3 separate regions of the Homo sapiens genome follow, and all the other regions are linked to region 1. The links come from fine-mapping of genetic effects on gene expression. A gene starts in region 1. Each other region holds a variant in brackets. All regions are shown on one strand. Distances are from middle to middle. Region 1 holds the start of RGS10 (regulator of G protein signaling 10). Region 2 has its middle 26 kb from the start of RGS10. Region 3 overlaps RGS10 (regulator of G protein signaling 10).

Region 1 (2,757 bases):
TTGTCTGGGCCCGGAGTAGGCCAACAACAGCAGTTTTAAAAGCAGAACTCCCCGCGCTGGGTCTAACCCTGTTCTTGGTCACCGCGTTCGCTTCAGGAGCCTGGAAATCCTCTTTTGGCAGCAGAAGGGGGAGAGTGCTTGGAAATGCTCGGAGGAAAACGACTTTTGGAGGGGGAATAGCGGGGAGGGAAACAACAAGCAACCACCGGCCACACTTGGGGTGCAACTGGGGCTGTGGGGTGGGTAGAGGGAGAGGGAAAGTGAGCAGAACTGGAAGCTCAGAATAGAAGATACAAAAGAAAGTGCCAAGTAGTGAAAAAAACTGCAAAAGGACGGGGGGATGGGGGGAGGGCGACTGGGGAACGGTTTGGAAAAATAGCAATTAGTACAGCTAAAAATAAAGACCAATTTAGAGACAAAGCCAGATACACAAGGAGAAAAATAAAACTCGCCAGAAAGACAATTTCTTGCAAACCAAATGTTCAAGAAAATGGGGGCTAATGACATCCCCTCTGGGGCTGCTCCATAGAAGAAATGAAATAATAGGAGACCGTAGAGCGCGCAGCGCCCAGCAGGTGACGCCGTGGGGGCTTGAGTGGTCCCGGTCGTGGAGCCTGAAGGCCCTGCCAGAGGCAGTGCCCACGTGTCCCCAAAGTTAGAGAAGTGTCCCGAGAGCGCGGTGTGCGGGACAGAGCACCGCCCGGCGCAGGAACCGGGGGGTTCCTGCAGAATCCTCTCAGATCTCCCCGAGTCCTGGCGCCCGCGCGGCACGGCCGGGGAGAGGGCGCCCACCCGCGGCGGCTCGGCTAGCTCAGCGCACGGGCCCTGGGGACGCCCCACCCGCATTCGCGGGGCGGGAAGGCGCAGCGCCCACGAAGTCGAGGAGCAGCCAGGCCCCAGCAGGCGGGGATCCTGGTGACGAGGAGGCAAAGGCCACAGGCTGGGCCGCGCCCGGACTCTGCAGAACCGCGAGGCCTAGGCTTCCCAGCCTGTGACCCGGGAGGGGACCCCGCCCGCCACCTGCGAAGGCTCGCTGAGAGCCCCGAAGCGCGGTGCGCCCGCGGCGCCGTGCCAGTTTCTCCGGGGCTACAGGGAGAAGGCGGGAGACCGCGATGGGCCCGGGAGCTTGAAGCTGGGCGGGGCGGGCCGGGGCGGCATCTCAGGCGAGGGCCAGGGACCCCGGGACGCGCTAACCGCCTCCGCGGGGCTACTAAGTTCCCGGCGGCGCGGGCTCCCTCTGGGCCAGTGCACCTTATCCCAGGCGCGGGGCACACTCTGGGCGATCGGGGGTCACCCGGGGCTGCCCTGCCCTGCCCCGCCCGGGCACCCCGGAGCGGAACCGCGAGTCCTCACCAGCGGGGGCGGGCAGGGCGCACTGAGCGCGCCACGCGGCGCCTGGCTAGGAGGAGGGCGGCGGGCGGGGACCTAGAGCTCCGGGGCGGTGCTGAGCCCGCTCCTCCTCCTTGCCCTCCTCCTCCTCCTCCTCGCCCTCCTCCTCCTCCTCGCCTTCCTCCGGCTCAGCCGCCGCGCCGCCGGGCTGCTCCTTCTTCCTCCTCGGGCGCCCGCGGCGATGTTCAACCGCGCCGTGAGCCGGCTGAGCAGGAAGCGGCCGCCGTCAGGTAAGCGGCTTCGGGGGCCCGCGGGCTCGGGGTCGGGGCGCCGTTTCGCCCGCCCGGCCTCCTGCCCTCCCTCTTGTGCTCGGGCGCGGCTCGGTGGTACCTCCCAGACTGGAGCCCCGGCCGACCGCACCACCTCTCCCCGCTGGGTACCGCACCTTCGCGGTCCCAGCCGCGACGGGAGCGCAGAGCTCCTCCGGGAGCCCCGGGGAGGAAGTTTGGCTGAAAGAGGAACAGCCGCAGTTTTCTTTTTAGTGATGGTCTGGGAGAAAAAGGAGCGCCCCAAATCTCCAAACTTTGGAGGTGACATGGGGCTCCAGATTCCGAAAGCGGAACGGCGCGCGGGCTTCTCCCTCCGTGACGCTCTCCGCCTCCGCTGCGGGCGTGGGTGGAAGGATGCCGAGCGCCCGGGGGAGCACGGCTGGACCCGGGCATCCGACTGGGCCCCTGGGCCTGGGGCGTCGGGGGCCTTCGCTTCTGCCGCGAGGAGCCAAAAGGTGGGATCGCGAGGGTGGCGGAACCCCAGGATGGAGAAGGGCACTTCTGCGGTCCGAGCCAGCGAAGTTCTGACGTTACGAAGGATTCGCCTTGGCCGTCACTTTGGGCCAGCCTGAGCCACGATCTCGGGCAACTTGATAGGCCAAAGACCCCACGGTGAAGGTGGAGCCGTGCCCTTGATTCCGGTCCTTCCACCCTTTTGCTCATCACAATAGCTACGACCTGTGCAGGCCTTTGGGTGCGCCAAGGGCTTTGTCCACCGCGTTGGGTGAACTCTCCCTTCACCCCTAGGACAACCCGGTGAGTGAGGAGGGAGCGGAAGCCAGGCGCTGTTAGGTAACTTGCCCCAGTCACACTCCGCAGGTGATGGGGAGGCTTTCAAACCCAGGTTCCCCTGACTCTGAAGTTCGGGGGCTTTGCCGGGCTTCCCACGCCAAGATTCACTTCTGCTTGGCGCTCAGAGTCCCAACGCGTTGGTGCATTTCCTTTCTGCTCCTGGTATTTTATGAGGGACATTGTGGTTTAGAGACTGGGACCAGACTGGCTGGATCCGAATCTCACCTTCGCCATATTCACCAGCCGTGGGACCTTTCTGCAGAATGAGGTTCTGCACAGTGGGAATAACAGTAGCTACTCGCCTTTT
Region 2 (2,757 bases), 26 kb before region 1:
AAAACCCCATCTCTACTAAAAATACAAAAAATTAGCCAGGCGTGGTGGCAGGCGCCTGTAGTCCCAGCTACTCGGGAGGCTGAAGCAGGAGAATCCCTTGAACCGGGAGGCGGAGCTTGCAGTGAGCTGAGATCATGCCACTGCATTCCAGCCTGGGCAACAGAGCGAGACTCTGTCTCAAAAAAAAAAAAAAAAAAAGAATTAAGCTTTTGTTTGGGGGAAGAGAGAGACATGATCTACATAACTTTGATGGCTTGGTTTTTAAACAAGAATATCAGAGTAACAGCGGACAAAAGAAGTATGTTCAATAAATTATTTCCTTAACTTTCCAACTCAAAATACATATGCCGAATTTTGTCTGTTCCAATTTATTGCACTTTAAAGAATTCACTAACCATTGTTTCTCTGAGATGTTCCTCTGGGAGTGATCCACATCTAATAACGTCTTGGAGTCAGCTTGGAAAGTTTGCAAACATGAATCAAACTGAAGTGCTTTTGGATAGCGTTTGAGGAAAGCCAGGGCGACTGTATGCTGGAAAGGAATCTCAGGAGTGAGCTGTCCAGTTGTTGATCTTCCAGCGAGGCTTAGCTTGCCCGTGGGTCTCCTCTTTTCACTTTCCTTCCTTCTTGGGAACTGACAAGAGTTTTGCAAAAAGCCTGGTTGTCATGGTGCTATAGAATTACAGCATTGTTAAGGTAAACCAGATTTTGCTGTATAAAATCAGCAGATACCATAACTTGCCCAAGTGTAATTTTTTTTCCTGGTCCTTTATCTTTCTTCCTTACGTTTTGGTATACCAGCAAAGAGAAGTCTGAAACCATCTAGACAAAATAAAGCATGAAATACGTAGCCATATGCAACTGTGCATGTTCTGAGAATTATTGTATAAATTTCAGGTTTTCACATTCAGTTCACTTTACTGGTTACAAGTTAAGAATTGAGTTGTTCCATATTGGGTTTGTACGATTGCTTTTGCTCACAAAAATAAAGCTAATGTGTAAGTCTTAACAGCTTTTTAAAAAATGAGACTACACATTTAATCATCTTAGCTTGCTACTTTTTGAAGAGGACTAAACTTGAAAAACATTTTTAATTTTCTCTGGCTAGGTTATATTTTAGCAGATGGCATAACTCATACTTTGTTTAATAAGGGTTCAGATTGGGGAAAAAGTGACGAAGGATGATGAAGGAGGGATAAGTCCTTGATTCAGGAGCACATTAACCTGAGACTAGACAATTCTGGGCAGGTGTAGTAAGCCATGAATGGATAATCGGGTGGGGTGTTGATATGTAATATGTTCCTGGTTTAAGACTGTGTACACTTTATCAAGACTAGAAGACTTACCAGGAGACTTACCAGCCTATTGAAAATGAAATATTACCAACATGTTTGCTGATAGATGGCCCTGATAGTTTGTTTTCAATTTCCTTTAAGGTATGTTTTTATTT[A/G]GCAATATGGGTTCTACTTGTGTATTAGAATGTTGGGCAAATGGTCCTGTTTTACAATAGTTGCCTTTGAGCATTTTCAGTAAAATGACAGGGATTAGGATGTCCTTTAAAATCCACATTTCTTATACCCAGGGATATATTTTATTTTTTAAAAATGGATAACTTCATTCCTTGGTTGAAGCTCCCCGAAGGCAGGGACTTGGTTTGTTAACTACACAAATTCTAGTACTTGTAACAGTTCTTGGCATGTGGTAGGTGTTCAGTAAATGTTAAATACATTAATATGATAAGAGGAAATGAAAGTAAACATGTATTTTATTTAGTCTCCCTCTTGAAACCAGAACATTACCTCGTGTTCTATTTGAGTAGAACTTGATCAGAATTGGTGGGGTGCTTGTGAAAAGGTAGATTCTGAGACTCTGCAGTTGTGGGTGAAGGTAGTCTGAAATAAAATTAATTGGCCTGGCGGGGCGCCGGTGGCTCACGCCTGAAATCCCAGCACTTACGGAGGCCGAGGCAGGTGGATCACTTGAAGCCAGGAGTTCGATACCTGCCTGGCCAACATGGCACAACCGCATCTCTACTGAAGATACAAAAATTAGCTGAGCATAGTGGTGCATGCCTGTAGTCCCAGCTACTCGGGAGGCTGAGGCACGACAATTGCTTGAACCTGAGAGGCAGAGGTTGCAGTGAGCTGAGATTGTGCCACTGTACTTCAGCCTGAGCAACAGAGCGAGACTCTGTCTCAAAAAATAAATAAATAAATCGGGGCCGAGCGTGGTGGCTCACACCTGTAATTCCAGCACTTTGGGAGGCCGAGGTGGGTGGATCACCTGAGGTCAGGAGTTCGAGACCAGCCTGGCCAACATGGTGAAACCCCGTCTCTACTGAAAATACAAAAAACTAGCCAGGCATGATGGTGTATGCCTGTAATCCCAGCTACTCGGGAGACAGATGGAAGAATTGCTTGAATCTGGGAGGTGGAGTTTGCAGTGAGCTGAGATTGTGTCACTGCACTCCAGCCTGGGCAACAGGGCGAGACTCCGTCTCAAAAAAAAAAAAAAAAAAAAAAAAAAAAAATTGGCTGAGTGTGGTGGCTCATGCCTGTAATCCCAGCACTTTGGGAGGCCAAGGCAAGCAGATCACTTGAGTCCAGGAGTTCAAGACCAGCCTGGCCAAAATGGCGAAACCCTGTCTCTACTAAAAATACAAAAATTAGCTGGACATGGTGGCACATACCTGCAGTCCCAGCTACTCTAGAGGCTGAGGCAGGAGAATTGCCTGAACCTTGGAGTTGGAGGTTTCAA
Region 3 (2,757 bases), 43 kb after region 1:
GGTTCAAGTGATTCTTTGGCCTCAGCCTCCTGAATAGCTGGGACTACAGGTGTGTGCCACCACGCTCGGCTAATTTTTGTATTTTTAGTAGAGACGGGGTTTCACCATATTGGCCAGGCTGGTCTTGAACTCCTGACCTCAAGTGATCCACCTGCCTCCACCTCCCAAAGTGCTGGGATTACAGGTGTGAGCCACCGCCCCCAGCACCCTCAGATGTTTAATTTACAAAATAGTGTATGTGTGTTGGGAGAGGGCAGCCTTAAAAGATGTCAGGGTTTTACCATCCACTTGACAACCCCGCCTGGCAGTCAGTGACATTCTAGACATCTCTGGAACTTTCCACTTGGTTGTTCCGTGTACCAGGGTGAACCATGTGGATTTTTAGTTGCAGAGTGTACTGCGAGTTAAGTGGAAAGGTCTGAGAGAGAGAGAAATGAGGGGTGGGAAAGAGATCATAGCCCTTGACAGCTGGAAAAGGCTTTGTGCTTCTCTTTCTCTGCCCCTTTCCTGGGGCAAGGGAGGAGGGCAGATGGCACAGGATTGGGTAGCAGTGGGGGAGAATGAATGCTGGTCACAAGGACTGTGGCCCAGAAAAGAGGTTCAGTGGCGGCCAGAGGAAGCTACTGTGCCTGGGGACAGCCCTCTGAGCACCTGCCATGCCGGCGGGGGCAGCCGTCTAATCTGGGGCACTTCAGCTCTGTCGGGTGTCCTCTTCGCTCACCTGACATACCTTAGAGTTGTTTCATTCTAGGGATGTGCTCCCCAGCCTGTCTGATGGCACAGATGTTGGCATTCTGCAGCTGGCTGCTCTATTCTTTATTTGGGACCTGTTCCCTTGCTAAGATTATAGTTTTGCTGCCCTGCCCTGCAGTGAGCACGCCTCATTTTGACTCCTGGTACAATAATAGGTTTGTTTGAGATCTCGGATGCCAGACTTACTGGGAGTCTTAACAATGCTGGCATCATATGATATGTCAGTGATCTTTTTAACACCACTGTCTCTACAGAAATGGTTTCTATTCGGCTGTCTCAAGCTCTTGGAGAAATACATCCTTGTCTTATCTAGGCAAATAAAGTGGAGAGTCTTGAAGGACTTCTTGGTACAAGGGTCTGAATCAGTGCTGTGTGAATCTATATTTCCGTGGAAAATAAAGGCATATTTGTTCATGTGACTGTCTATATATTCCATTGAGATTATTGCATAATGACCAAAAATCTCCAGGAAATCTGCCTTGTCTAGCAGATGACTTATTTGAGCTTTCTTAGTGTGTTCTTTGCACATGTTAGTATTCTTTGGCACATGGTAGGTATTAATACATATCTGATGGGATGATTTATGGCCTGGATTAGCCTCAGCCTTCAGACTCTTTTTTCTTTTCCTCCTTAGATCTTTAATCTCATGAAGTACGACAGCTACAGCCGCTTCTTAAAGTCTGACTTGTTTTTAAAACACAAGCGAACCGAGGAAGAGGAAGAAGATTTGCCTGATGCTCAAACTGCAGCTAAAAGAGCTTCCAGAATTTATAACACATGAGCCCCCAAAAAGCC[G/A]GGACTGGCAGCTTTAAGAAGCAAAGGAATTTCCTCTCAGGACCGTGCCGGGTTTATCATTGCTTTGTTATTTGTAAGGACTGAAATGTACAAAACCCTTCAATGGGATGTGTGTTTTATTAACTGCTTCACCAGTAAATTTTGCATGATGGCTAAGCTAACATAAAAAAAGAATAATAATAACTTGGAAGTTTTAGTTTACAAAACAGAGATTCCTTCAACACTGGACACGTCGAGCATTTTGTAGCTTAATTAAACCTCATGTAAGGCCACAAGGTGAAACGTATCACACTACCTTTTACCTTGTAAGTGTTTGCTCTGCCTCTCTGGTGAGTGGACGCATGTCCACAGGTCACTTGGTAAATTAACTCAAACATGAGTTGATCCGGCAAACCCAGGCTACTGGGGGTATGGCCTGCCAGTCGCCTTTTGGGTTAAATATTTCTCGAGAGCAAGTTCAGTGCTGGAAAAAGAAAATGAATCACTGACAGCCTCTAAAGACTTGGGAAGCTTGTGTGTGAGTGTCATCAAAGGGTTATTATTTCTTGTGCGTGGGTTGGTCCTGGTTTTGACCACAACCCATGACATTTCATGCAACACAGATAAATAGTTCATCTTGACAGAAACAAGATCTCAACCAGGAAGGAAAAAAAACACAAGTGGGAAATTGTTCAGGGTCCCCATGGCAACTCAAGGTGTTGTTGAATGGGATTGTAGCACAGGTGCGTACTGAGGTTGGAGTTGGTGGGGCTGTTCCCTTCTCCTGTACCCATCGGGGACACATCATAATCCTTTCCTCTCTGCTCCTGCCCTTTGCTGAACTTGCTAACTCTGGCTTGAGACTTCAACGGGGAAAAGAAATGCTGCCTTGAAGCCTGCCCTTCTTGGGTGAGGAGGCTGTGAATGGGGCACGCTTGGGCCAGGCGGGGCACGCTTGGGCCAGGCTGTCCCCGCCAGCCCAGGAACTCCACTTTTAGAGCAGAGCCCACCAGGGCCAAGGTCAGGCTCAGTTCCCTTTGGTGAATTGTTCCTGCTATTTGTAGGGGGTTGGGTGCTGCCACCAGGCCTTTTCCAGGATGTTTGCTAAGCCCTTTCTATTTGTACAAAGTGACCAGCTTCTGTTGCGTGTGAGCCTCCCAACTCAGACTTTCCTGTTTGCAAAATTCACTAATGTTGAAGGTGGCTGTATAATTTATCAATCAAACTAGG

The links. PIP is the estimated chance that this variant, and not a neighbour inherited with it, causes the effect.
Region 2: its variant is the best candidate, but not a certain one, in a credible set for the expression of RGS10 in whole blood (INTERVAL, PIP 0.83).
Region 3: its variant is the best candidate, but not a certain one, in a credible set for the expression of RGS10 in whole blood (TOPMed, PIP 0.84).

The regions. Positions count from the first base shown.
Region 1 is chr10:119,541,452-119,544,208 of GRCh38, reverse strand. RGS10 (regulator of G protein signaling 10) reads left to right here and starts at 1,490. Exons shown (of 5, transcript NM_001005339.2): 1 at 1,490-1,619. The coding sequence starts at 1,571. RefSeq lists enhancers at 1-235, 498-577 and silencers at 788-947, 998-1,067, 1,078-1,817, 1,868-2,037.
Region 2 is chr10:119,567,191-119,569,947 of GRCh38, reverse strand. No RefSeq gene overlaps it. Among named protein-coding and RNA genes, the nearest start is that of RGS10, 26 kb to the right of the region's middle. The variant A/G (reference allele first, on the strand shown) is at 1,451.
Region 3 is chr10:119,498,890-119,501,646 of GRCh38, reverse strand. It overlaps RGS10 (regulator of G protein signaling 10), which reads left to right. Exons shown (of 5, transcript NM_001005339.2): 5 at 1,388-1,830. The coding sequence ends at 1,534. Among named protein-coding and RNA genes, the nearest start is that of RGS10, 42 kb to the left of the region's middle. The variant G/A (reference allele first, on the strand shown) is at 1,549.